Regions from separate parts of the Homo sapiens genome. Here all the other regions are reported to be linked to region 3. Evidence: microRNA targets listed by miRTarBase, many of them from high-throughput screens and not tested one by one. Region 3 holds a microRNA gene; each other region holds the end of a gene's coding sequence.

Region 1 (4,533 bases), not on the chromosome of region 3:
AGGGATAAAACACTACAAATATGAGGCAGTATGTACTGCTTAGGTTATGGGTGCACCAAAATCTCTCAAATCACTGCTAAAGAACTTACTCATGTAACCAAATACCACCTGTACCCCAGTAACTTATGGAAAAAAATGAATGACAGCAGAGTCCTCATCAGAACCAATATTCCTCCTGAACATAGATAGAACTAAACAAGATTTTGACAAATCAACTCTAACAACAAATTACATAGATAATATGTTATGACTAAATGGGTTTATCCCAGGTGTGGAGGGTTGATTTAATGTTTGAAAATCAATGAACTAAAATAGACCACCTCAGTAGACAGAAAAATTATTTGGCAAAATCCAACACCCATTTCTGATAAAAACTCTCAGCAAACTGGGAATAGAAGGAAACTTCTTACCCTGATAAGGGCATATATGAAAAACCTACAGCTAACATCATATTGAAAAACTGAATGTGTTGCTCTTAAGATTAGGAACAAGACAAAGGTGTCTGCTCTCTTCACCACACCTGGCCGGATTTTTTTTTAAACTGTTTTATTTCAGTAGGTCTAGTTGTTCATCTTACTGGATTTCTTATACACTATTCTGAAACCTCTTGTCTTTGTGTTTAGATCATTTGGGTGTCTGAGGTTTATTTCTTTGATGTTTTTCATCAAAGCTGCTCAAAATACGTTATTGGTTTTCTGTGCCATTAAAAGTGAGCTCACTTCATGTTCTTGTTGAATTCTAACTGAAGCTCATTTCTCCCCTTTTTATTTTCAGATATTTGTATCTGCTGTTCTCCGGTGATGACCTTTTACCTTTAGACCACTGGGTGTTTAATACAGAGGCTCACCCTCTGCCTGTGTTACATTTAGCCAACACCACACTTTCAGGTAATCCTGCTGTTCGATGAAAGCAGTTCCAGAAGGACCATTCTCACCTGTGTTTTGTTTACATGGACCACTACAGAAATTAGTTTGAAGGGGCGGCTTTTGAAAACCTGGACCTCTATGTCAACATGACAGGGTGAAACTATTCCCCCTAAGACTGTTCAACTTGTAGATACATCAACTTTGAAATTATTCCATTTTATACCTGACCAAAACATGTTCTGATATGTGTAGGACAGAGACCTGGATGTGCTTTGATCGTTAATGAGGTGGTCACATGAGAAATGATACCTGTTACTACTGTATTGTTTTTAGAGTCCTGAAGTCTGGAGGCTAGACTTCCTGAAAGCAAGTCAAGAATATAGAGCACCTTGCAGGAGTTCAAGATGGCCTTTGGAACCAATTATGTATTTGTTTCCTCCTACAGTGGAGCAGCATTCAAATCAAATATTTACATATTGCTTATCACTTTTTCTCCATTTTAATAATGGAATGAACTAAAATAAACAAGAACAAAAGAATAGTATAATTATATCAGTAACAAGAAGACTCAAAAAAGAAACAGGAGTACCTATCCCTATCTGAATTTTCAAGTTCCCCATTGGATGACCAGACTGGCAACCATTTCAAATCCCAGTCTATTTCATTGAAATTTCTTGGTTAAGTTTAATTTTCTCTGGGGGCATGATCTCACAAAGAATACTCAAGTCTTTTTCTTCTTATGGAATCATCGAAACTGCTATTTATCATAATCACCACTTATGAGCCTGGGTTTGGGATTTTGTGCATGTAGTTCAGTCTAGTGTTGGTAGCATGACAGAAAGTGGGGAAAATGCCGCAGTTTGTTGCCTTGAAACCTAAGAGCAATCCTTGGTTTTGTTGCTACATTATTTTTCCAGACCAACACATCTACCAAGTAAATTTTATTCACTTTAATTTCATAATAAAGTTAGTAGAGTCACTCAACTTACAACTTTATTTATGTGGCTTGGCAAAAATCACTATAAGGCAGCTCTAAATTTGCCTTGATAAGCTAAATAAATTACTTTTATAACTTACTAAAGCAGAACAAACAGTGAAACTTTCTAAAATATTCTATCTGGAATAGGGACAGGGGATCTTTTATTTATAATCTCATCAGATGAGTGAGTTGTTCACAGATATTTTATGTTTTTTTAATTTTCTCCAAGAATATTTATAGAATTCCAAAGAATCAGAATAGTTTCAAAATAATTTTCAGTGATAAAAGAGTGTTGTAATTAATCATATTACACTAAAATTGGGATACATCTAAGGAACTTTATCTTACTATCAGTAGGTTTTGCATTGATATTTCTTTTTAAATAAACTACTAGTTCTTTATATTTTGACAAAAAGAACTTAAATTTTATCAGGAACTGTAAGATAAATATCTAGTGCTTATAAATTTTCTGTCCTTAAATTTATGTGACAGTGCAAGATACTTTTGCTCTTTTCATTTAATATAGGCATCTTCCATTGACATTAATAAAACTTAGAAACAGTATAATTAGTATAACATTTACTCTGAATTTGAAGATTTCCTGAAACAAAGTTTGTACAAGAAGCCCACCTTGGAATTCTGAAGGCTTATTTTCTTGTTTGATAAGCTTTTCTTTTAAACTTAGGTTTTAAGTTGGGGAAAGACTTAATTAACTAATATAGTATTTTCTAAGGTTGATCATCTTATACCACGAATCGTTAATTTTGACAGTTCTACTGATCCGTAAATGATAACCACTGCAAATTTTTTCAGTATAAAATTTTTCACTGCAAAAAAATTTCAGTAGAAAATAAGGATGCAGGGCCAGTTACAATAGTCCTTAAGAGAGTTAAATTATAGCACATGTTTTGACATTGTAATATCTTTTACTACTTGAACATTTAAATTTCTAAATGAGAAAGGTATATATATTACTGTAACTGTAGAAGGGAAAAGGGAAAGTATTTGGTTCTAAAAAATGTTAGCCTTCCTCGTAAAAGTAGCACAAGCCCACTTATGAATCACTGAGAAAAAGTGAAAAACTTGAGTTGGCAAAGATGCAGAGCAGCAGTGCAGATGGCAATGAACTCTCTGAATTCTCTTTTACCTTATTTAGAAGAATGCAGAGTAAAGGGACCTTCTTGGTTCTGCAGGAACTTCTCAAGGGATGAGGAGACAGAACCCCTACTTCCAAGTGCTCTATTTGTATTACCCAGATGACTGAAGCTTAAGAGAAGGCAGGGAAGTATACAAGCAGAGCCAGTTCTGGTACAAACAAAGAATTTGACAGGGACAATGGAAGGGTCTTCTTCACCACTCCTTACCTTCTATGTGATGGAAAGACTAGAGCTTATAAAAGTACTTCCATTTTTTTATTCTCCTGAATACCAAAGGCAATTAAAGTCAGCTACAAATGACTTGCCAGTGTCATGTTTTATTTTTGTTATAGATTTTTAAATTATTTCCTTCAAGATCAATTCTTATCCCATATAATGCTTAGCTTCCAAGAATATTCTTTACTTTCTTCTGTCTTTTACAGCTCTTTGCATTTTGTAGACCTTAATACTCAGGTTAAATATTCATTGCATTTATAAGATCTTCTGCAAAAAGCCCAGAAATGGTCCTTTTCAGGTGCCTCTTCAAAGAGCTGACACCTTACCTTGTGCCTTTGGCACAAATGTGCAGAATAGATACATCAGTTGGTGCATAATCGAAAAAAATAGGAATTTTGAACACTGTTCTTCCTTCTACATTTATTTCTCTTCATTTTAGAATCACACTTTTTATGTTAAACCAGATTATTATTATTATTATTATTCAACCAGTATTAAGTTGTTAAAACCAAGGGAATGGGGCCCTAACCAAAAAGAAGTCTCAACTCAGAAAAATAAGTCCCCAGTCAGGTGGTTCTTACTTTCTTGTGGGTTGCACATTTTGTATCTCTCTAACATCAGCGTATTCCTGACTTTAAGCAGGTGTTTATATGTAAAATAAAACCTGGGTATCGAAGGGAAATGCATTCTTTTTATGGAGTATTGACCCTGATCCTCTATGATGTCATATAGAGCAACTCAGGGCTATACTTGCTAGATTTTAACCAAGCAGTTTGAAATATTAATCATCATCCTCTCATCTTCTCCACTCTCCATTGCCAAAGTCTTTGTCAAAACTCCAAATTTGTTGATAAAAGATTGTGTTTGCCATTCTCATTTATAATGCAGTTTCTCCTTAAGCCTGGAGTTTTTTGAATGAGTGCATGAGTAAATGAGAGAATGTGTGAACGAACATTTATGAAGTATCTAACATGTGCCAAGCATTGTGCCTGGCACTTTCAATCATTAGAATGTTTTATGTGATTCCACAGCATTTTCTGTATGAGAGTAGCTCACAACATTTTAAATGTTTCCAATATGAATCGTGTTACAAAATTCTTAATTTTATATTTCATATAAATTAAAGAGGAAAAAGAAAAGGTTTATAATATATTTTAAAACAATGTGTTACTGTATAATACAACTATAATTGTAGTTAATAACTAAAACCTCTTGAAAATGTCAAAGAAATACTTGATTTCTGATGCAACTTTGACTAAAATATTTACTTTAGAAATAAAAACGTTCTTATTTTGCTATATCACTTTAATTGCAT
Region 2 (4,533 bases), not on the chromosome of region 3:
AACCAAAATGTATACAGTCCTCCAGTACCAAGTGCCAAGCTAGATTGATGTTGAGATAAAACTGCTGCAAAGTGAAGCCAGAGAAAAATTCTTGCTGACTCAAAGAAAGAAAACCATCACATGCAGAATCAATTTTTATTTCTGAATTATACAGTGAGGCTATATAGATATATTGTGTCATTAAAGACTTTTATATTATTAATCTACATTATGGAGAATTTATTTACCAAAACGAAGTCTAACAGACACTTTATTCTGAGCAATCCAATGCATGATAGAAAAACCTTTAGATATATAAAAGATTAATTTGTGCACATCTAAATGTTTCTAAGGGAACAAACTACTGAGGCATTGTGATAAGACGAGAGTTGCAAACATAGTACCATAACTGAATATTTAAAATTACATCTTAACAAAGGCTAGGAGTAGTGACTTCCTCACACACCTCAGAGAATGTCTTAGAGAGTAACCCCATAGAACATTGTATGGCTTCAACAGAAACTTCAGGATTTTCTTCCACACTGAGCTACTGCCCTCAAACAAACTTTCTCACTCCTTGACACTATCTTCTGTGCAAATTTCTGTTCTTTCTCTTAATCAAGGAGCTTTGAGAAACAATGCTTTTGCCCCAATGACCCCTTGGTTCCCTTAACTACAGATCTATAGGAGAAATGCAAAGCAGTTCCCAGAAGTCAGAACCAAAGCAAGAATGTTCAGAGTGCAAGAGCTAGAGAGCTAAATCATGTGAATGTTTACCTCTGTCTACCTATCTGCTTAGGGATTATTTTTCTAGGATTCATCTAGGATTCTATTTACTTGGGGTGAATGTACATGGTAGCTTTTCCCTAGCACATGCAATTAAATTAATTTGTCTTTTAAGATAATAAAATAGCAGATACCTAAATATCAGAGTGGTTATGCAGCCTACAGAACAGCTGAAACAAAATCATTGGGACAAATGCCCATAATTTTCATGTAGGAAGATGAGGCTTCAAACAGCATACCACCTGAGTAGTTTTCCATAGATGAGCTGGACAAGTTAAAAATATATATATAAATGGTGAGATTGTTGCTGTGTCTGTTTGGCTATAACAAGAGCCCTCTATGAACAGCTCTATGCCCTCAGGTTTGCACCACTACACTGAACACTGGATTTTTCATTACTTCCTGTGACAGGGTGACCATGGAATTCATTTTACAAAATGGGATGCTACTGAGTGAAAGTAGCAAATAGGTGAACAAACAGGAATATTGGGTAACTGTATTTACGTCAACACTGTGTTCTGGGAGAGGTGTAATTTGGGCTTTCAAAAGTGGAGGTGGGCTGTGGGAGGGGGTGGGCTGTAGGGTTTTTCTGTCCAACAAGCCAGATGTTATGAAGGAGGAGATCCAACAGAACATACAATTCAACAAGATACTCGCTTGAAAGGATCAAGAGGAGAAAAGAGAAAACGATGGAGGCTTATGGAGGAAAGAGGGCTGAACTGCGTGTGTGTGGGCACGTGCGGAAGGACGGGAGGAGACAGAGGTGAAGCAATGAGGTCAGAGAAACTCAATCACCTGTGCAAAGATGTCGACTTTAAAGTAGTTACAAGCTCCTTCTACCCAGGACTCCAAATATCCTGGACAGCTCTCCCCAATGAATTTTCCACCATGAGACTAGGGTGGAACCGCTCTCACCCCTTCATTTTTATTTCTGCCAGCTTCTTTGTAATAGGAGACACTGGAGACTAAGAATGGTTCCCAGAGTGAGGCACGGACTTCAGCCAACACCTGTATATACTAAAGAAGTGCTTCTAAGAAGGCTTCATTTTGGCAATTGCAACCTAAGCAGTGATTTTGTGGCTAGGACTCCTCATGTTTTTCAGCAAGCCATTTCTTTTATTTCACTGTCTGTGGATGTCAAAACATTGATTTTTGACAAAAATAAATTAGTTTGCAGCCTCATTTGTCCGTTCTGTTAGAGAAACTATCTAAATACAAATTGGGGTGGAGTAGGAAAGGATGCGTTTGCTAGAGCAGGGGTCAGCAAACTTTTTCTGTAAACATAGTCAATGTTTTAGGCATTGTGGGACATACGGTCTGCTGAACTGCTCAGCTCTGCGGCTGTAGTGTGAAAGTAGCTGTAGACAGTACAAAAACAAGTTTGTGTGGCTGTGTTTCAGTACCACTTTATTTATCGGCACTAACATTTGAATAATTTTCATGTGTCATGAAATATTCAAAAAAAATTTTTCCAACCCAAAATGTAAAAACCATTCTTAGCTTGCAGTGGTGAGCGAGACTTAGCTGTGGTTTGCCACCCCACCTCACTAGAGGCCTACAGACTTGAAATCTTGTTGGCATTTTAAAGGGCATATGAAGACTATAAAGGAAATATTTTGTACATGAAAGTAATACTCATATTTAATTTTAAGCCTATGATCAGATTACGGTGTTTTAAAGCAGATCACTTTTTATAATGCATGCGAGAGAGGAATTCATGAATAACTGAATGCTACCAAATGATTTTTGAGTAGGCCACCTTGCACTTGAGTTCTTGGCACTTAAAAGGTAACCTCTGGAGCTGAGTTTATGGCCTGAAACTCAGAGAGCTACCAAACATGCAACACGGATTCTTAAATTTCACAATGTGGTGGTCACCAACATTCATCAGGAAAATGATGTTAAAAGACCAATTTACATAAAATATAATGCCCAATTTGACAACTAAAATAAAGTTGACGTGGATTAGAAAGCCCGGCTTCCCTTTGAGAAGTTAAAGGAGATTCTGGTAAACAAGAACAAAACGGGCACTTAGCTGATGATGGTTTTACACCTTGTGTGGTTTGTGGCTGTCCTAGTCAGGCTTAGGATTTTAAAGGTGGAGTCAAACAGGGGAAACTTTCCTGGGGAGAGTTGAGACCTGTGTACTTTAAACCTAATGCAATCACCAAAAGGAAATCCAGCTAATCTATGGAAACAAATCCACTCATACTTAACAGTGGATTAAAGGTATCTTACTGGTAAACACCAGTCTAAGGGACAAAGTATCACTACACCGTGTTAATGAAGTATTGAAATGGAAGGTCCTACTTTCTTGCTAAGGCTCAACTAAAATCTTTGAGGCACATAATTGGCAAAATAGGAAAGTACACACAATTTCATAAAATATCTTAAGAGTAAACAAACTTTCTATTTTTCCCCTTAGAAATTTAGAATGGCACCAGGTAGTGCAAAGTGGAAAAAGGTAACATCAGCCCTGTCTCTTTCAGGTAGATATGTTTCAACAGAACCATGAACCAGAAAAGCATCCTCTTCTTCCAGCATGGCCAACTAAGGCTTTTCTTTCAGCTTCAAGTCAATACTGCAAAGAAAAGAAAAAGAGAGAGAAACATGAGAAACCAAATGAGAGACATTTAGTAATGATTTGGGTAGCACTGTGTTTGCTTTTTTCCTCAAAGGACATACTGAAAATATTTAAATCATGCAAGTTTCTTATAATAGAAAAATCTGGTAAAACCCAATCCTCCTCTTGTCAGGCTTTTCTCCAACATATGAAATCTGTTTAGTTCTACAAAATCGTTTCTGGAAGCATTTTACACCTTTTCAAAATGATCCAGGGAGGTAAAAAACTCATGTAAAGGCTCATTCCCAAAGTCAATTAAGATAAGGAGCATTAGTGTATTCCAGAAATCATGCCATTTTATTTAATAAGTGACCTTTCCTTGTGAAGCAAACAAATGTTCTGCCTCAAGTAAGTAATGTCTGACAAGCACTAAATAGTAAGAAATGGTAAACAACAAAACAACACCAAACATTTTCTAGAAGCCAAAGGAATTGACTGAAAGGGGTTAGCCTACCTTACTGAGATGGATGTTTATAACTAAAGAAAAGCTTGTTTTTCAGAAGGTCAAATGGGTTCCCAAGTATCTGAGGAGTAAGCCTAAAACTCACTCGAATCACGTCTCTCTTCTGCTTCTTAGTGAACACAGCACAACTTCCTACCGCATCCACCCAAGAGGAAGAAAACCAAAAGCCAGTAAATAGAGGAAGAATTTCAGTTGCGATAAAAGAGAAACTATTAGTTTGCAAAGGGTGATTTGGCACGTATCTGTGGATTTTGCTTATCTCTGCTCCCTGAGCCATAAGCTTGCATGTTGCAAAGGTTACTGTGCTTTACTTGTGGAATTTGCGGCAGCTGAGCAGTGTTCATTCTAGAAGCTTTGCAAATAAAGCCACTGGCAACTCACGCTGCCTGCCCATCCAGTTTACAGTAGTAAAGTATCTTTCCTTTGAAATATAGTCAGCAATTCCGTCACTTATTAGCAGTGGGGACTTGGCCAAGTCACCCACCTTCTCTAAGTTTCCATTTCTGTATCTGTAAAATGGAACGGTCATACCGCTTTCACAGCTTGCTAATGAATAAGTCTAAAGCATTTTCAATTGTACATAATGAACATATCATAATGTCTGTTATTATTAGCAGCAATAGTACCTCGGTGGATTTTTTTTGTTGTTGTTTTGTGTGTGTGGTTTTTTTTTTTTTTTTTT
Region 3 (3,064 bases):
CTATGCCTCCTGGGTTCAAGTGATTCTCCTGCCTCAGCCTCCTGAGTAGCTGGGACTACAGGCACTTGCCACCACACCTGGCTAATTTTTTTTGTATTTTTTAGTAGAGATGGGGTTTCACCATGTTGGCCAGGCTGATCTCGAACTCCTGACCTCAAGTGATCCACCTGCCTTGGCTTCCCAAAGTGCTGGGATTACAGGCGTGAGCCGCGACGCCCAGCCAAGGACACCTGTTGATTATCTGTCTCACACTCCCACATCCTTGGGGATTTGCTCCTCCCTCACATCAATCATGTGATGCTTGAAAGGGCTGCCAATCACAGTAGCCAGTTCCTCTGGCTTTGGCCATAATAAATCCAGAAGTGGGCCAATTAGAATCCTTCTCTGAGGTTTTTTTCAATATTGACCTGGAAGAGACAGATTCCAGCCTTTTGGAATGGAGCTATAAAGATGTGAATGAGAGGCTTCGAACATGGAGAAAAATGTGTTTGCAGGAGGGAAGCATGGAGCCAATAGAGAGCAAAGCATCAAAGCACCCAAGTTAAGGTCAGGACTTAAAGTGTCTGGACCTTCCTGTTAATATGAGTCAATGATTTTCCTGTTCTTTGTGGTTATTTTGAGCTGGGTTTCTGAAAAGCACAGCTCAAGTAGCCTAACACAGTCACAGTTCATACTTACAATGCATTCTCAAATGTATCTTCCAGTCCTCAGCATTCAGGCGGTTTTTACGAGATGGGTTATCTCACATGTGAAATGTCTTTGTTCTTCCTCACAAGACAGGCATAAAAATTCCTGGGCAAGAGGCACCTTACCCAGCATCCCTAACAAAAGGAGCTTTCTTTCCCTTTGCATCACAGAAGCCAGTGGTGACCTGCCAACCACAAGATGTGATGACTGTTCTATTTCAAGCTACCAAAGCTTGTAAAATAGAGGCTGGCCACACCAGCTAGGCAACTGGCTAGTATGTTTTGGAAGAAGGGTCTCTTCTTGGTGGTCAGCCCTCCGTTCCATCCCTCTGCTGGCTGACTCCCTGTGACAATCTGTCTTCAGATCACCAAGAGGGTCCCTCAGCAGCCACAACATGTTGGGTGTATGGGGCAATAGCATTCCCTAATAAAAACCAGAGCTCTGAAAACCCTCTGTGAGAGAACACAGTGCAACTGGGCCACCTGACTTTTATGGGACCTTTAAAAAAAAGAAGCCACCATATACAATTACTAAGAGGGATGACACTTTGGAAGCTAAAAGCTTCCCCTCCTTTAACTCTGAAGAGCCACCCCGTGAACTCTGAACCATGAAGTCACAACAACGAGGAAGGGAGGCACTGGGCAGGAGTGGCACCCAGGACATTGGTCTCACCTTCTCCTCCCCCTTCCTTTTCCCTACCTCCCCCATCTCCTCTGCCTAGCTGGAGCATGGTAGGTTATAAACAGGCACTGCCTGGATAGCTAGTCTGCTCTGGGCTGAGGCGACTGGTCTGTTTCAACCTGATGGAATGCTTTTCCTACGTCCCGCAGTGTCAGTGTGCCCCAGGCTCACAGGAGCTTGGCAGCTGTCTCCCCAGGGGCAGTGGAAAGCAGCATATCCCATGGTGGACTCGACAGCTTCTCACCACCAAAACAAAAACACAACAGTCCCGACTGCCATGGAGAGTTCAATCCTCTTGTCCCGGGATTGGCACCGGCTGGAATTCCTAGGGTTCTAGCTGAGCTACCTCCTGTGAGGTCTAAATACAGCACATTCGATTTTAACCTAAACACACAGCCTGCACCAGTGCTCAGGGCTGGTAGTCCCCAACGGCCACCAGGGAAGTCAGCTGAGACGCCTGGACTCCCACCTGCCCATCTGGTGCTGGGCATTTCAGAAATGTCAGAGAAAGGTTGCGATAGTGAGCCTATGTTCGCCGATGCTGTCTATGGCCAAATGATGGGGGATGCAACCAGTTCGTGTAGGCTTAACTATGAGTGTGGTCCTAGGTAGAGAAATGCATCCTGAGGAAGGGAGTGGGCAGGTGGAGAATGCAGGGGTATCAGGAGGAAGAGAAAGAGACAGGGAGGAAGAGGCAGTAAGGACCTAGACCTATTTCTTAGCCAATTAATCCAAAACCAGGGGATCTTTCTAAAATGTCCACACCCAGGCGAACACAACTCTGTAACTATGCCTCTCCCTGAGATTTAGGTCTTAGGCCCTAGAATCAGATGGACTAAGGTTGCCCTCTAGTTGTGTGACCTTGGGCACAACTGACTTCTCAATTTCCCCATCTCTAAAATGGCCTGAAGGACTGCTGTAGCTGTTCATTGAAATCATGGACATAAAGTACCTTGTACCTAGAAGCTGCTCAACAAATAGCAGCTACTAGAAGTAGTAGTAGTGGCAGCAGGGATAATAGAAGTGGGGGTAATATCAAGCATGGGCTTCTCTCCCTCAACTTTGCCTCTGGCTTCCCTCCCTTGGAGAGGGCACGAGTGGAGGGAACCTCCCAGCCAGGAAAAGCTGATGCTTAGAGACAAAGGAAACCTTTACCGGAGGAAAACAATGCAACATTCACACCCACACCTAAGAACCGTAGAGTGCCAAAATGGCAACAGCTTCCTAACCTCCCAAATGTCAACCCACACGCCCTGCAAAGGTAAGACTAGGAGGGTTTCCCCTTACCTTGGTGTTCGTGCACGACTTCCCTCGCTTATACTCTTTGTGGGAACCACGCTTATCCAATTTGTACCACAGGGCTTTGGCTTTCCAGGTGGTCACCTTGGACTTGAGCTTGGAATAAAAGTTTCTGTGGTCCAGAGGGTCTAGGTCCAGGTGTCGTGTGAGAATGTTGAAGGCCTGGAGGGTACCTTTGCACGTGGATGCCTGGACAAAGTTCTCAAAAACCTGCCCCGCCTGGGCCTGCTTCTCATCCTCGTTTTCCCCCATGGTTCAGGAGTCGTGTGCGGCAGTGGTGCGGCGAGGACACAGGTGAACAGCATGAAGTATCTGGAGAAACGTCACACCTGTGAAAGTAGGGGGAGGCAGAGGTCAGCTTTGGACGATGAGGTTAGGGTGGGGGATGGGTGCTGAG
Region 4 (4,380 bases), not on the chromosome of region 3:
TATATGATTTGAGTAAACAGGACATTGACAACGCAGACTTTGAAATCGTGGTCATACTGGAAGGCATGGTGGAAGCCACTGCCATGACGACACAGTGCCGTAGCTCTTATCTAGCAAATGAAATCCTGTGGGGCCACCGCTATGAGCCTGTGCTCTTTGAAGAGAAGCACTACTACAAAGTGGACTATTCCAGGTTCCACAAAACTTACGAAGTCCCCAACACTCCCCTTTGTAGTGCCAGAGACTTAGCAGAAAAGAAATATATCCTCTCAAATGCAAATTCATTTTGCTATGAAAATGAAGTTGCCCTCACAAGCAAAGAGGAAGACGACAGTGAAAATGGAGTTCCAGAAAGCACTAGTACGGACACGCCCCCTGACATAGACCTTCACAACCAGGCAAGTGTACCTCTAGAGCCCAGGCCCTTACGGCGAGAGTCGGAGATATGACTGACTGATTCCTTCTCTGGAATAGTTACTTTACAACACGGTCTGTTGGTCAGAGGCCCAAAACAGTTATACAGATGACGGTACTGGTCAAGATGGGTCAAGCAAGCGGCCACAAGGGACTGAGGCAAGCACAATGGTTTCAAAGAAAGACTGTAAGCTCCATGATTAGCATAAAGCACTAACCATGTCTCCATGTGACCCGATGGCACATAGATGTTGTAGAATAAGTTATGGGTTTTTATGTTTTGTTTTGTGTTTTTCCAAAACTTGAACTTGCAGGCAAGCCTTGGTTGGGTATTTGATTTATCCAGAATGCTTCTCTTTAGGGAACAAGGATGTTTTTAATGGCATAACAAAGGCAAGACTCTGCCTTAATTTTTGAAAAGCTGCTAACTACATGAACACAAATGTGTATTTTTGTTGCAGTGTAGTTTTCCTTTTGTGTAATTTTAAAGTCAGTGTTGAATTTTATTGAAAGCTCATGATGCGCTTCAAAGTGGCAAGTATTTGGCTATTAACTGCCAAAACAAGAGCCTGATTTTTTGAGGCCAGTAATTCGTTTGCTAGAATTGATTTTTTTTCTCTCTCTCTTTGTTACATAAGGGCATTATGTAACACTAGCCGAATGGTAGCCTCTGGGTTGTTGTTTTTTTCTTTTCCTCCATGATGTTAATGGGTTATCTCAAATTTTAAGTTAAACTACCTAAAATAAATACCAAAGATAATGCATATTTTTGCACAGTGGAGCTTACACTTAAAAGAAAACAAAGCCCCATGGGCTGCCTTGAAATCAAGAGACAATAACTTTGAACCTCAGCAAGACCTTGAACCGCCGGTTCATTTTGCACCTTATTCAGAAAATAGAGCATCATACTCACCGAGTCTAGTCAGTGTAGTGCTTTTAAAAATTTTGTCCTTTCATGTAACTTTTTTATTTTAAGAGGAAGAAGAAGAAAGGGGCACACACACACAATACCGACGTCTATCCTTTCCTGCTAGGCAGTGCTGGCCAGGCTCATGTGTAGTGTGCGAGATGGTGATGTACTCTTATATTTTTCTGGGCTTTTCCTTTTGCACATTCCAAAATTCATTTCATAAGACAAGATCTTCATAGGACCTCCTTGGCATCCTGGCATTCTCAAAACTGAGCCATCCAGCATGAAAGATAAATGGGTTTAAACCCTTGCTGCTGAATTTATTGCCTGGACTGTCAGGACATCACCAGCCCACCTTCACCTTAGGGAAGATGCCACACCTGGCCTCCACACTTGCTCTTCTGATCAGTCTGTCTGGATTGAGTCCTACAGTGTCAGATAGGGCGGCAAATGCCAAAGCAGGGAAACAGGGAGGTGTGGACAAGCCAGTTTGATGCAGCACTTCAGATCAAGTGCTTAGGAAGGAGAGGAAACTTGCCTTTTTTATGGCAGAGGATAGTAATGAAAATGTCTCAGTATTTTAGGGTCAATGAGAGCCATAAAAATATAACATAATCACAAGTAAAGGAGATAATGGTCTAAAACAGCTATTTCCCTTTTCTGTGTGCATACTTATGACTGAATGTGAGCTAAGCATTTTCTCCTGTGGAGCCCTAGAGCAGGTTACTAAGGAAGGACACATTGTTTTCCAGAAGCCTCCCCTGCCTGGCTGACTGCCTTGCTAGAAACATAATTTTTTTTTTCTCACTGAAGCTCAATAATGGAACTCTTTTTTTTTTTTTTTTTAATTTAAAGTTCCCTATTTGTGAATTCTGGGATTACTGACTTTTCTTTTTAATTGGAGTCTCAAAATCAACTCTCTTATGGTATTATATCTCTGTATGCCATTAAAAAACAGCTTGTTCTAGAATCATGTATTTTGTAAACTGATGTTTGTGATGGTCTCTGGTTCTTGAACAGCCATATCTGAATGCCGTGCCTGCAAAACTATGACAATTTTTGCTGTTTTCAGCCTTCAGATTTGATGGCTTGGGAAACTGAGGTGTTATTTTCAATGAAACAAAGAAAGAGATGTTAAGCAAGTGGTTGTTTTAGATCCAAATGTAAAGGCAGGTTTGGGAAGGTGTTTAAAGAGTTGGAGGAATTGGGGATTGAGTTGTAAAGAAAACTTACAGAAGAGGCAACAATTTGGTTCTTGACAGTGAGAGGATATTGAGGGCTTCAGCTGCTGCTATTATGATGTTTTGCAAAGGAAAATAATCAAACCAAAGAGTATTCAGTGATATGTAAATTAAATGAAGATACAGTGGAGAATGGGGGTGACCACAAAAGAGGCTCCCCCTAAACACACAGTGCTGCCACTTAAAAAGACTTGAGAAATTTGAAAGGGGGTGGGTATGGGGGGGGCAAGAAAGAGGGAGGGAAATCTTTCAACTTATTTCTGAAAAAGAGAAAAAAATATAAAATTTCTGGTGCACAGGTTTGTTTTTTCAAGAAAATTTTGCAGAAGCTATGTTTTTAAAGTGTACATTTTATAAAGTTTATCAGATATTTTCATATTTAAAGCCAAATGTAAATAGAGGTCTGTAAAGAAAAATAATTGCCATAGAAAGTATAATTTCAGTGCAGTAATTTCTGAGAGCTAGTACCTATATGCTACCGGTTAGCATGGTTTTAGCAAATATATACCAGCCTTATAAGGTTCGTATTGCTATGTTCTTCTGTTATTTATTTCAGCATGGACTGTTCATTTGAAACCTTTTTCTAGTTATTAGCGTTTTAACAGTTACAAGCTTTAAATGGCAATTTTTTTTTTTTTTTTTTTTTTTTTTTTTTTTTTGTCAAGAGCCAAGACACAGGTAATGCACGACATTGATTGCTGCATTTTACCTTCAAAATATTTGTCCTTATTGACTGGGTCTCCTTAATTAATGTACACATGTCATTAGAATGCAGACGGAGGGGACTCACCATGAATATCTGGGGTTGATTCCCAGATGTGTGTTGCTTCTCTATTGCAAGCAGATTCCCTGTTGGATTTACTTCGGATTTATTCCCTTTTAAAGAATTTTTGCCCATATCTGGAAGGGCACTATATTTTTGGGAGGAGCCATAGATTCCTGGTTATCCTATTTTTAAACAAAATGTAGACAAAGTGAACTCTATTTTGATTATTGAGAAAGGAGTAGTTTTCTATCCCTCTAAGAGTATACTTGAATCAGACATTTTAAGGATGTCACTATGGCACTGTTGTCATTTCCAAATTCCTAGAAAAGTTTGTTTTACTTTGTTTTTATTCTGTTAATGCATTCTTTCTTCTCTTTACTTCCTTTCTTACCAGTACACTCCTATCTCAACTCTGTTTATTTGATGAGTTCTGTCCCGTAAATCATATTTCCCTTACAATTAATAAATGTCACTTCATATTTTATAATAAACCACTCAGTAAAAGCAAAAGCTTGTCCTGAGAAGTAGAGTGAGTTCTTTTTCACTCTGTGTCTAATAATGTTAAGGTGGGAAAAAAAAAAGTGTGGCATAGCTACCTGCCCATCCCCAACCCTCAGCAAAGTAGAATCTCTTTTCTGGTAATTTTGGGTTTCCGCTCTGGGCTCTGGCAAGTTGAACAATCCTAGCCATTGACAATCGTGATAGTTATTATTTTCCCATTTGCTGTCTTTTTGTATCTAAAGTCTTCCTATTGTACTGCACAAACCATGGATTGTACATATTTTTATATATTATGTCTTATTTTATTATTTCTAAATAAAAAAATTAAAAATTGAAAACAAATTCTTGGAAGAATCTTTGGGCTTCCCGTATGATTACTCTAGAAACACCATAAAGCAAATGTTCCCAAACAATGGAACATAAACCCTGATAGGTTAGATGCATAGAGCCATAGAAATGGCCTCAACAGACAGGTGCAGTGGGGTGACAGATTAGTTTAATTCAAGTTAGAGGAAGTCAAGCTCATATTTTGTTTTTGGATAGAATAG
Region 5 (4,533 bases), not on the chromosome of region 3:
TGTGTGTAAAATGAAAGGAAAAGGAAGTGTGTATGTCAAAGAATGTCTCATTCTCAGAGCGGGAGCTGAGCATCGGGGTGAGGTGGAGCCTGAGATCACGGTCTAGCCTTAAGAACATTTTAAATTTTGCACATGAAAATGTATTCTCTATTTTAAAAAAACCATAATTAGGTTTTGAAAAGAATCCTTGCTTTTGCAGGGATTGTGAAATGGAAGTTGAAGGTTTTTGTCCTCTATGAAGCAGTAGCTCTTTACAATGGAGGCATTTGTTAATTGAGTCTGATATAAAGTGTGATGTAGAGAAATAAAGCATGATGCATCACGCAGCTCGCAGGTCATTTCTCCCAGCGTGGGGGAAGCTGTAGGAGCTATAAAACAAACAACATGTTTACAGGGAGAAATTTCTAGTGATCCTCAGCATCACTGAATTTCATACCCGATTAGAATTAAAGAGAGTGTCTAATTTTTACCTCTGCTCCTAGAATAACACATTTCACAGAGCCTTCAAAGAGCCTTATGCCTGCAGTCTTTTCTGTCAAATATGCCTTTGTTTCATGAGCCTTAAAGTGCTATACAGGCAGCCATACAAGTTCACACACTTCTCCCTCACGCACCATTTGGCCCTCTGGACAGCCCGGTCAGATGGTCATTGTTGTCACTAGGACCAGCTTGTGGATAAGAAACCTCATCTCCAGGTGGTAACAGCAAAGCCGGCCTCCCTCAGGCCTGCAAAGGACCAACTCCTTCTGCAGCAGTGACTGTCTGTGACTTCTGCTTCCCTTCCTCCCTAGAAATGTGTCCAGTCCTTTTACAGTGTCACCCAGAACTTTGTCCATCTGCTAGGGGGCTGGAAAGGGAAGTTTCTGCCTCACACAGATGTTGGCTTCTCCTCTCGGAGGCGTCTTTTGTTCATGGTGCTGAAGGGTTTAAGGGGCAGAAGTGAAGGCATGTTTCCAAATCGGATGGTCTCTGGAGTGTGCTCCCTGAAGGACGGGGGTGGGGGTGGGAGAGAAGCTGAAATCTGTTTCAGAACCAATCCTGGGCTTGGGAAGCTTTTAGGAGGATTTGCTGCCCTAAATTAACTGTCCACCCTTCTTTCCCTCAGGTCATCTGTGACAAAATATTTCGCCATTGGTTTTCCGCGCCTCTCAAGAGCTCTGCGGTCTCTTTCCAGCTTCAGCTGCAGTTACAGGAGGCGGTGCAGGAATGTGCAGACCCTGGGGTCCCCAGTGGGAACACCCGGAGAGCAGCCTCCAGCGTGTTCTGGAAGCTTCGCCAACTCCTCCAAGCCACACTGAGGGAGCTGCAGGAGGCAGAGAAGTAGCCACTCTCTGGCCTTAAACATGCTCACACAGGAAAAGTGACCTTGGCTGGATTTCTTCTGCCATTGTTTTAAAGATGAGCCATTTCCCCTGTGCTCTCTGGGGTGCCGTTCTGGTCTCCACATTGTGGAGTGGCAAGTGCTGCTGCCAGAGACAGTGCTCCCTCGCTCTCGTCCCACCCTGGCCTCTGACCTGTCGCCTTGTGTAAAATGAGATGAGGGAGGAGGTACAGACCTCCCTTCAGGAGGGCTCTCGGTCAGAAGACACCAACCTGTGTGCACTTATTCTCTGCAGAGAGCACTTGTACCTGGTTATCCCAGCACGAGTTCCAGCTGTTCTTTCCTGTAAATCGTTACCACGTTAAAAAGTGTGCGTGTGTGCATACAAATGATGTGTATGCCTGTGTCTGGGTGCAAATGAGCATGTGAGCATGTGTGAGTGTGCCCATGAGTGTCTGCATGTGTGTGAGTGTGCACAGGTGAGTGTGCACAGGTGAGTGTGGTGTGCTCATGAGGAGTATGAGTATGCCTGAGTGTGAATATGTATGAGTGTGAATGAGTGTGTGCACATGAGTGCACGGGTGTCAGCATGTGTATATAAGTGTGGGCATGTGTATGTGATTGTGTGAGTGTGGGCAGGTGAGTGTGTTGGGGATGTGGGTTAGGGTGGGGAGTGGTGCTTTCTCTAGTGTGTCCTCCGGAACATCTTGCCTACCTAGCAAAGAAGTGTGACCATTCTTTCGGAATTAAATACAATAAAAAGAAAATAAGCTGCATCTTTAGGGAAGGGAATTTGCATTGGAGAGCGTGTGTAACGGCAGCTTATAGTATTTTTCATTTTGTGGAATCCACCAAGGTTATGGATGGGTTTTAGGGCGCCTCGTATTGCAATACACCTTCCCCTGGGCAGGGACTTGTAGGTTGGCTTGATGCAGCATTGTCTTCACCTTCAGAGAAAATTTAAAGTAGAGCAAATGCTGAGGTCTGCATTGACTCCAGGCAGGACCAGAGACCAGCACCTTTCTTTTGATGGATTGAAGACCAAGTGATAGGCATCAAATCCTATGGTGGCATGATACGCTCATCAGTGGTGATCCCAAGGAGGCTTTTCCAGCAAAATACAGGCAGGGGGACAGGCCAGGTGAAGCCAGTGAGCTTTCACTTAAAGGGACCTGGTTTCTACCCATAACTGTGACCCACGAGTGCTCAACAAACCAACGGGTCACCCCTTTTCAGAAATCCCATGAAAAGGGAAATCGAGAAAGATGAGAGAATCAGGAAGTCATGTTGGCAGTTTACACATTAAAGAAGACAAATTAATCGGACGTTGTGAAAGTCACAAACTGACACATTCCAAATGGTCTCTTATCTTGGCCTGCAGCCCCTTTCTAAACCAGAGAAACGGGAATGCCTTCTTCCAGACTTTGGGGTCACATTTACTGACTCTGCCCTTCAGGGCACGCTGAGAAATGGTGTGTGAGGGACTAGCATGATCAGAGGCCCCCAGCTCTAAATTCTGCCTTCCCCAAAGACCTGTTGGAAGGCCCACTGCCAGCTGTTATTCTTACCCATCACCACTGGGGATCTTCCAAATGACACAGAGTTCCATAGAGGGCCTCCTCATCATGGACATGAAGACTCGCTTTGCAATTGTATTCTAGCAAGAAGGAAAAAACCCATGTCAGTCACCCTGTGGCACGAGCAAATTAAAACCAAAGTTCAACGGCCAGGCCTAGGACTAGTGGATTCCAAAGGAAAGGGCGGGCTTCGGGCTATTGGGTGGAGGCTCCGATTTTCCCCAGAGCTGCGCTGGGTGCAATGCCTTTCTGTGGTGGTCGGGGCATACTTTGGGCCATGCTCACCTTCTAGGCAGGTTCTCTACAAGCAAAAAGGTTTACAGGAAGACGGGTGTGAGATGGAGGGGGGGAAGGAGGGAAGCCACCAGGGCTTTGCCCTCTGTGCCCTTTAAACAGTGGGGTTTCGCTCTGGGAGGTCAGAGTGGGTCTTTTGTGGGTAGACGCTGGGATGCCAGCCATTCATTAGTGGCCTGAGCTCACTGACCAGGCAGCAAAGCCAGCCTGGAAAAGAGAAATAGTTAGTTTTCATTTCAACCAAAATGGAAACAAATTGTTTTTGTTTACGATGGAGACTGTGCAATATATAATTATCCAACACAATTGTGGTTTTATTGCTGAAAGGGAGCTGTTTTATCTCTTCCCTTTATGTTTGGCTACACAGTTACACACACACACACACACACACACACCCTTTTCCATCCCTGCCTGGGAATTCCCATTAGAGCAGTGGCTCTCAAATTGTGGTGAAGCTCAGTTTTGTTTTTAATTTTGAAACCTTGCAAATCAATGCTTTTATATAACATAATAAATTAACACTGTGTATATCAATATTTAGTATTTTGAATATGACAAATCGGTTTTTTTCTGGCTGATCTAATTGAGCAACAACCGCACTCGTAGAGGAAAATGTCTCCCTAAATGATTTCTATGTTTTGTTGTAATAACACATAGTAGACAGAACACTCTCAGAGACATGTTGATGGGATCTGAAAAAGATTATAAAGTAAACTCATCAAGCTCAGGCTATTCCTCTTTAAGTTGTATCCAAATTAAAGCAAATGGTGCTTTATTCATGTCCAGTCCTTCATCAGGATTCCATTGCCACAGTTTACCTTGACAAATTGTAGTTAAAACTTCATTTGATGAAAAGAAAGAATTCCATAATTGTATACTCCATTGGCTTACAGCTGACAAACCTTAATACACGTGGGTTGTATAGAAATCGTAGGTGGCTCAGGAGACAAGTTCGTGGATACCTAGACTGGTCAATGAGTCAGTTGGCCAATGTCAACTGGCAATGTCACATAACATCACAAACGTTTACAAACACTGCCAATATTGCTAAACCCTCCTCTCAATTCTCATCTCACATGAGACAAATTAAAGCTAACAGTTCAGAGACATGCTGCCTCCTAGAAGTCCACCAGGCTTAGCCTCCCATGCATCCTGCCCCATACTAAGGCCCAGCCTGCTCAGCCCTTCCAGAGTACCTATGATGAACATCCAGGACATTACCTTAAATTACTGGAAGAATAACTCTTTTAAATCTTGATTTGGAAGCTATTCTTTGAACAGCAGTAAGTGGAGGAGTTGGGTTGGAGATTTCTAAAACCAATGACCGCATAAAGATACTCT
Region 6 (3,000 bases), not on the chromosome of region 3:
GCATACAAAATATGTTCTTTACATCAAAGCACATGTTAACAAAAACAAGTTCTAGAAAGCATATACCCTCTAAGACTAATGAAAACGTCTTTAGCAGGGAATTAAAAAAAAATTAACATTCATTTGATAAATATTTTGTAGAACTTGAAATGAGGATTTTATCTCTGAGTATTTTTTGTAGTATTCCCCTTGTCCAGTTTTTGCAGAAGAATGGCAAACACTTATTTCTAAAATGAAATAGCCCTGGAAACACCCAGTGGAATTTTTTCAAAGTAAATGTCTAGCCTTAACTTGAAGTTCAAGAAGTTGTAGCTACATACTACATTAGTAAAATCTGAAATAAAATTATTCCCAGTTAATCTCTTCACAGTTTCTTAAAAAAATATTAGTGGAGATAAATTATCTACCAACTTTAAAAATCTAAACTTATGTTCACTGAACAAAAATAAATTTAGTTTCAGAACATTGCCTGTTAACGGCAAAGTACTATAAATAGTGCATGTTAAACTCTTCCCAACAACTCATTTCTATAAAATATTTGATTAAAAATAAAATGAGTGAAACATTCAATACAGAGGGGAAGACACGAACATCTTTTCAAATACAGAATAACTCACAGGAAATTTAAATAAAATCTAAATATTTTAAAAAATACCATACCAAAAAAGCCTCTAAGGTAGATTTGCCTCAAACATTTTAGTGCATTTAGAATAACTGTAGCTTCTTAGCATCAAAACCTTTGGGATATCAACTGTGCTCTTTAAGTCATGGCAAAATTATAATTTTACATTCTAGTATGTAATTATGAAAAAAATCTTTTCCATGTTTAAATTAAAATGCACCTTCACAACATCCATGGTCAGTTGTTAGAAAAAAATGCATTTGACAGAATACAGAGTTAATAAGCTGGTTTTAACAAGGGAGTTCTCTTTGTTTCATGAAAATTTTCATTTTCTATTTTGGGGTACTGCTTTTATCTGAAGAATAAAAATGGGAAAAAATAACCACAAAAACTTCCAAATGACAACCTGTTTCTTTCTGGCAACTGATAAATACTAAAGCCAAGTTACACACTTGGAAACTACTGCAGTAAAATGGATCTGAGCAGTCTGTGATTTAAACAACAATGTAACAGAATTGTAGAATTTTAAAGTACAAGATTTGACAAAGAAGAGAGTTCCAGTTTGGAGAAAGTGTCCTTGATGCTGCTCTTTAAACAATGCAGTAGCTTAGACTGGATGCTAAACTGCAAGAACTCATTACAGTGGCTTTCTAGCATCTGAAAGGGAAAGCAGAGATTCCATTAACTTGGCACTTGGGGGTTTTGTGGGTACATACCACCAATATTTCCCTTTCCTTTACTATTAGAGTTCTTTTTTGGTTAATAGATGCTTACTATTCTCTTTAAGATGCCAATTAGGGGCACATTCAACATATGAACAAAATTAAAAATAGAATTTTTGCAAAGTACACAGAAAAGAAACCAAGTTAGTAACAATGTATTTTATTGTTTGACCAAGCTCTCTTCAGAGTACGTGAGTTATTACACAATATAAAAACAATAGCCTCCTATTCAAAATGAATTACTCTATATTTAGTAAGTCTTATTTTTATAAACAAATTAAATGTCATGTTTAGATGCATTTTATATTCACTTCCACACCTTTTTATCCTTTCTTACTAAAGCGATGATTTAGTTTCTACACAGTTTCGTCACTGTACATGAAGACTGGTAAAACTGCAAATAAGAATTACAATTTGAAGTCACAGAAAATATTTTAAATGGCTAATTCTGAAGAGGAGACAAGAATCCATTTTGGACATGTTCTCAGTTTTGTAAATATGACTTCACTATCACATTCTCTCATGTGTTTCCATACCCACCTTTTCTTGGAAATTATGGGCAGAAAATGGATAGAAGGAAGGAAAAGGAATCTTGAGAAATTTGTTTGGAGGCTGCATTTTAATAATAAGGATGACTTCACTTTATCTCTTTGGTCATCAAAGGAATAGGAAGAATAAGAGATTCTCATTATAGTTATCCACCTCACCTAACAGTAATGATATCAGAATGAAGGATTTAAATGAAAGTCAAACTGACAGGGGAAAAAGGCATCTAGCACTCTAGTGTATTTACCTGTGAAAATAAAAATCCAGTGGAAAACTGACATGTGTTTAGACATTGAATAAACAAGTTATTTTAAATATTAAAAGAATTTTCAATTTCAAGTCTTAACTGTTTTACATTTCCTCTTGTGGAAAAAAGAAAATTTTTACTAAACTGAAATAGCTTTACTATTATCAGTTGAAATGAAACTACCGATTCAACTTAAGGAATGTGAACTAAATGATATTTCAATTAATAGCAATTTTTAAGGCAATTTCTGTACTAAACACTGAAATGAGTAGTAATAAATTCTGTAATTTATTCTACCATTTTGAAATATGGCAGAAATAACATCCAGTTCAATGCATATTGAAACATCAAAAGTATGGATAAGCCTTGAAGTTTTTATGGACCATAAATGTGAGAAATTCAAATGAACATCTTGTAAGATTATGACTGCACTCCAATTCTCCAATGTCGAAAGGAAAGGAAAAAAGAGACACCAATGTGTCTAACTGTTCTAATATATAAATGACCCTGACCAGATTTTTATGAAAAAAAGGGGAAATTTTATTCCACTGACAAATTTATATTCTATAAATATAATGTATAAGCCTTGAATTAGCAGACACTTTATTAGGGATGACCAAAACAAAAAACAAAAAAAACCAAACCACAAAAACAGCAAAACTAAGTAAAATATGACTATTTTCAATCAATGTTGGTTATGTTGCCCTCTTGCAAAATGACAGGCAAAATCATACTTGTTTTTACATTTGCATCCACATATATTACACTGAAAAGGATTTTCATACCCATGACATCCCATATGAATAGTGTAAAGGATGTTGTCTGCAAAGTACATATCACAGTGCTGGCAGTGGTGCAGAAGC
Region 7 (4,533 bases), not on the chromosome of region 3:
GCAAAGGAGTTCAAGACCACCCTTGGCAACATGGGGAGGCTGGGGCAGGAGAATCACTTGAACCTGGGGAGGTTGCTGTGAACCGAGATCACACCAATGCACTCCAGCTCCATCTCAAAAAGAAAAAAAAAAAAGCAATACAAAGAACTCTGGAATCAGAATGAGAAGGATTCAAATTCTACCTCAGTCGCATGAGCTTGGGCAAATTTCTGAATCCTGAACAGCTTGCGAATGCTAGATGCCAGGTACCTGAACTGTGCTAGGTGGTTTTTATGCATTATTTAATCCTCACAACCCTCTTGTAACCTTAGGTATTAATTCCATCCCATAGATAAGGAAATTGAGGAGGGAGTATTGAAGCAACTTGCTCATGATCGGACAGACATTAAATGTCAAAGCTGGAATTTGAATTTGGGTCTGTCTGTTAAATTGGTGTTCCCCAGATTCTCATTTGAGGTTCCATTTCCACATCTATAGGATGGGAACAGACCCTTTCCTCACAGGGTTGTTGTGAAGATTGGGAGATTAAATTTGAAAACATTTGGCAACAGTCACACTCAATGCATGCCACATAGGCTGGGCGCAGTGGCTCATGCCTGTAATCCCAGCACTTTGGGAGGCTGAGGCACGTGGATCACTTGAGCTCAGGAGTTCCAGACCAGCTTGGCCAACATGGTGAAATCCTGTCTCTACTAAAAATACCGAAATTGGCCGGGCGTGATGGTATGTGCCTGTAATCCCAGCTACTAGGAAGGCTGAGGTGGGAGAATTGCTAGAACCTGGGAGATGGAGGTTGCAGTTGAGCCGAGATTGTGACACTGCACTCCAGCCTGGGTGACAGAGCGAGACTCCATCTCAAACAAACACCCAATGCATGCCAACTGGAAAAGAAATGGAAAACTTTTATCCCCATTTCTATGGCTGAGGAAACTTGAGGCACAGGGAAATTAATCAATCTCCCCAGCGATATAGTGAGTGGCTCAATCAGAACCAGAATCCAGGTTTTGTACTCCAAGTGTGATTCACTTTCTCCCACACCCTCTCAAATGACTCTAGAGGAAGGGGAAGTGTATAGGAATCCTGCGAAAATGAACAGATACCTCAAGGGGAAGGGGAACACAAAGTCCACTAGGGGAGGCTGCCTGGAAGAGACCTAGTGTTCTGACAGCGGTATTTATAGGAAGTAGGAAGCCCGCGGGAGTGGTCTTAGCTCTTACATGATGTGGTTTTCCTGGTAAGCTAACTAGTTCCTGGTACCCAGAGAAGTTAAGAAGCTTGACCAAGGTCACACAGCCATAAACGGCACTGGCACAGCTTGGGGGTTGCACCTCTTTGTTCCTGGCGTTGTCTCCTTGGTGCTGGAGGCGGTAGGATGAGAAGCAGGTAATCATAATGTGGTGGGGTTGGGGACACAAGGGGGTCCTTCCAGATTCAAACAGCCTCTTTGTCACAGGGGAAGTCCAGTAGTGGGCAAAACAGCAAGGTAAAATGTCAAGGCCTCAGGGTCAAGCAGAGCAGGGGGGAATCCTGGCTCCCCCACCGATTAGCCATGTGGCCTCAACAACGTCAGTTCACCCGTCTCAATTCTCCTACAGGATTGCTGCAAATTCAGAGGAATGGTCTCCAAGTACCCAGCCCATGGCCAGGCTTAGAAAAACACCATGGTCATTATTACTCCACAGTGCCAGGGCAGCCGCAGAAGGGTGACAGGACTGGATGTCCAAGGGACAAGTAGACTTTCAGTGCCAACAGTCCCAACCTACAATCACTGGGCACAAGTTCTCGGCAGGGCAGGGGCTATCAGGTCAGGCCCATGATGCAATCACAGCTCTCTGCCTATGCTACAAGGTGAACCATGACCTTCAGGAAATTGAAAGAACAGCCCATAAAAAGGGAGTATGAAACAAAACCTCAGCGAACGTTTATTTCTCATCATATGGAACTGGTAGCAAAGCCAAAGATTTCTGCACTTGAACACTGGATACCACTCCCTACCCACCCAGTGAACATTTACAGTCATCACATGCCCTCTAGAACCCAGATCCCCATGCCGGGGCCTCTTCTCTCCTGCACACCTTCTTGCAGGGAGGGCTTTCAGGCCGGAAGGGGGTGCCGGTTGCTTCTCCGCGCCTGCACGGGTATTTAATGTGGCACACTGGCCAGGCTCCTCTCCTGCCCCGCCCAGCAGCAGCACGGCCCTTGCCTTTCTTCAGTGCCCTCCAAACTGGTCAGAGAGGAGGCACAGACTGCTAGAAGAAGGGCAAGAGAAGTCGTAATTCACAGTCATTTGCTACAGAAAGTGCCTGGAATCGGTCCTTGGCTGCTTCTGCCTGGAAGCAACCCACTTAAGCCCCAGGAGAGGGGACAGATGAGATACTGGGATGGGGGTGGGAGTCCTCAGAAGGCACCCAGGAGACACTGGCTGCAGAAATGGGGTCCCTGATCTTGCAAGAAAATCCGCTTGCTGTTGGCAGGTTGGCCTGAGAATCCCAGGGGCAGCTTCAGACATTGTGGGGACTCAGACCCACCCTCTCAGTCTGCAGCTGTGGCAGTCAGAGGTTTGGCAATGTAGCCATGGTCACCTGGCCATGGCCCAGGGGCAGGGTCCAAACAAGAACCCTGGTGCCTCCCGCCCCTCCTGCTGAGCCATGGTGCCACCTAAGCCATCTAGAAAGGCTCAACTTTTTGGGAGACATCTGCGGCAGGGCCACTGGAGGCAGGAGAGTGGGGTGCTGGCCTCTGCGAGGCAGGTGCAGCTCTGGGAGAACAGAATTCTCCCTCTCCTCCTCCTCTCACACACTGTGGCTCCAGGTTGGAACCTCAAGCATAAAGGACCAAAATAAAGAGGATTTATAATCTAATACTCCCTCCTCTTCAGAAGGCAATGTGACCAGCAAAGGCTCAAACTCTCTAGAGATAATCTGCTTTTTTTTTTTTTATGTACTTGGCCTCTCTCCTGACGCCTCACACCATTAAGCATGGAGAAAAGGGAAAAAGGGCAAAGGAAGTCAAAAAACTGAACTAGGATTCGGGCAACAGCCTCAGGCTGCCCAACAGAACAGGCTTTTAGGGAACTGGACACACAGACCAGCTGTGACCCTGACTTTCACATTGATGGGTGAATGGCAAGTAGGAGGTAATGAAATCTGGAAATGACAGGGGAGAGAAGGCAAAGCTGCCTGGAGTGTCAGTCCCGGAGGCATTTGCCCCTCTCCCCCGGGGGCCAGCCAGGGACTTCCCAGTTCAGGAAGGCCACAACACTTGTGGCACATTAATTCCGAGCTTGGCCCGGCTTCTTTCCTGTGCCCTCTGCCTCTGTGGGCAGGGGAAGGAGGAAGGGTGTGGTCCCTTAGGATCTCCAAGTGCTCTTCCAGCTCCCAGGAGCAGGGCTGAGATCCCAGAGTCAGTGCAATGAACTGTCCATTCCAGTGAGGAAAAGGGAGGGTGTGGCTTCGGGACTGCACATCACACACAAGCCCACTGCAGCGTGGGGAGGGTGGGCATGGGACACAAAAGGGTCTGGGGCTGTCTCCAGACAGAGAAGTCCTTGTGGGGAGCTGAACCGGGCCCAGGTCCTGCTCAGGAGTCAGGTCATGTAGCGGGTGATGGCACGGAGGGCGTACAGCAGAGCGGCTTGCATGCGCGCCTCCAGGAGCAGCAAGTTCACGTGGACCTGGGGCACAGAGGAAGGCATGTTGGCAACTGATGTCACTCCTCACCCCCACACCCCTCCCAGACTGCCTTGATCCCTGACCCACTTACCTCACCATTTCCTTTCCTACAGAGCTGCCCCAGCATCTGCTAAGGCTCTGAGCAGTTTAGTACAAGGACAAGCACATTCATTCCTATCATGACTAAGCTCTGTATTCCCTAAAGGTAAAATGGCCAGGTGCGGTGGCTCACGCCTGTAATCCCAACACTTTGGGAGGCCAAGGCGAGTGGATCAGGAGGTCAGGAGTTCGAGACCAGCCTGGCCAACATAGTGAAACCCCATCTCTACTAAAAATACAAAAAGTTAGCTGGGCATGGTGGTGGATGCCTGTAATCCCAGCTACTTGGAAAGCTGAGGCAGGAGAATTACTTGAACCCGGGAGACAGAGGTTGCAGAGGTTTATGTACATTTTTTTATTTTATCTTCCCAGCAACCTTGAAATACAGCAGTATTTATTCCCATTATAAAAATGAAATCCCAGCTACTTGGGAGGCTGAGGTGAGAGGATCACTTGAGTCCAGAAGTTCAAATACAGCCTGGACAATATAGTGTGACCCCATCACAAAAACAAAAAACTTTGAGAGGCTGAGGCAGGAGGATCATTTGAACTCAGGAGGTTGAGACCAGGATGGACAACACAGTGAGACCTTATCTCTACTAGGAATTTAAAAAATCAGGTGGTGTGTACCTCAGGCCCTCTGGGGGCTGAGTTGGGAGGACACTTGAGCCTAGGAAGTGGAGGCTGCAGCGAGCCGAAATCACACCGCTGCGCTCCAGCCTGGGCAACAGAGCAAGACTCTGTCTCAAAAAAAAAACAGGAT

What was found. The annotated mature microRNA hsa-miR-6124 reads GGGAAAAGGAAGGGGGAGGA and lies in region 3 at 1,364-1,383, opposite strand. An mRNA with a match to its seed (bases 2 to 7 or 8) in the 3' UTR can be bound and repressed. Matches are read on the target gene's strand: a 7mer-m8 pairs with bases 2 to 8, a 7mer-A1 pairs with bases 2 to 7 and ends in A, and an 8mer does both.
Region 1: the mRNA of MAN1A2 is a reported target of hsa-miR-6124. Seed matches in the 3' UTR shown: 7mer-A1 at 1,776-1,782.
Region 2: miRTarBase lists PRUNE2 as a target of hsa-miR-6124. Seed matches in the 3' UTR shown: 7mer-A1 at 3,221-3,227.
Region 4: the mRNA of KCNJ2 is a reported target of hsa-miR-6124. Seed matches in the 3' UTR shown: 7mer-A1 at 706-712, 7mer-m8 at 1,103-1,109, 7mer-m8 at 1,512-1,518 and 7mer-A1 at 2,069-2,075.
Region 5: miRTarBase lists DIPK1C as a target of hsa-miR-6124. Seed matches in the 3' UTR shown: 8mer at 2,427-2,434.
Region 6: the mRNA of IKZF5 is a reported target of hsa-miR-6124. Seed matches in the 3' UTR shown: 7mer-A1 at 2,257-2,263, 7mer-A1 at 2,158-2,164 and 7mer-m8 at 1,925-1,931.
Region 7: miRTarBase lists SESN2 as a target of hsa-miR-6124. Seed matches in the 3' UTR shown: 7mer-m8 at 3,433-3,439.

Annotation. Positions count from the first base shown.
Region 1 is chr1:117,522,051-117,526,583 of GRCh38, forward strand. It overlaps MAN1A2 (mannosidase alpha class 1A member 2), which reads left to right. Exons shown (of 13, transcript NM_006699.5): 13 at 775-4,533. The coding sequence ends at 907. Among named protein-coding and RNA genes, the nearest start is that of TENT5C-DT, 81 kb to the right of the region's middle.
Region 2 is chr9:76,611,255-76,615,787 of GRCh38, forward strand. PRUNE2 (prune homolog 2 with BCH domain) reads right to left here. Exons shown (of 19, transcript NM_015225.3): 19 at 122-3,346. The coding sequence ends at 3,316. All of the region lies in intron 5 of LOC105376095 (a long non-coding RNA gene), which reads left to right. Among named protein-coding and RNA genes, the nearest start is that of PCA3, 150 kb to the right of the region's middle.
Region 3 is chr11:12,162,011-12,165,074 of GRCh38, reverse strand. MIR6124 (microRNA 6124) reads right to left here and starts at 1,392; the gene lies at 1,308-1,392. MICAL2 (microtubule associated monooxygenase, calponin and LIM domain containing 2) reads right to left here. Exons shown (of 28, transcript NM_001282663.2): 3 at 2,656-2,996. The coding sequence starts at 2,919. RefSeq lists an enhancer at 1,152-1,651.
Region 4 is chr17:70,175,875-70,180,254 of GRCh38, forward strand. KCNJ2 (potassium inwardly rectifying channel subfamily J member 2) reads left to right here. Exons shown (of 2, transcript NM_000891.3): 2 at 1-4,170. The coding sequence ends at 449. Among named protein-coding and RNA genes, the nearest start is that of KCNJ2, 8.5 kb to the left of the region's middle.
Region 5 is chr18:74,433,292-74,437,824 of GRCh38, reverse strand. It overlaps DIPK1C (divergent protein kinase domain 1C), which reads left to right. Exons shown (of 4, transcript NM_001044369.3): 4 at 1,106-3,050. The coding sequence ends at 1,324. Among named protein-coding and RNA genes, the nearest start is that of DIPK1C, 22 kb to the left of the region's middle.
Region 6 is chr10:122,990,958-122,993,957 of GRCh38, forward strand. It overlaps IKZF5 (IKAROS family zinc finger 5), which reads right to left. Exons shown (of 5, transcript NM_001372123.1): 5 at 1-3,000. The coding sequence ends at 2,823. Among named protein-coding and RNA genes, the nearest start is that of PSTK, 12 kb to the left of the region's middle.
Region 7 is chr1:28,279,856-28,284,388 of GRCh38, reverse strand. SESN2 (sestrin 2) reads right to left here. Exons shown (of 10, transcript NM_031459.5): 10 at 1,898-3,673. The coding sequence ends at 3,587. Among named protein-coding and RNA genes, the nearest start is that of SESN2, 23 kb to the right of the region's middle.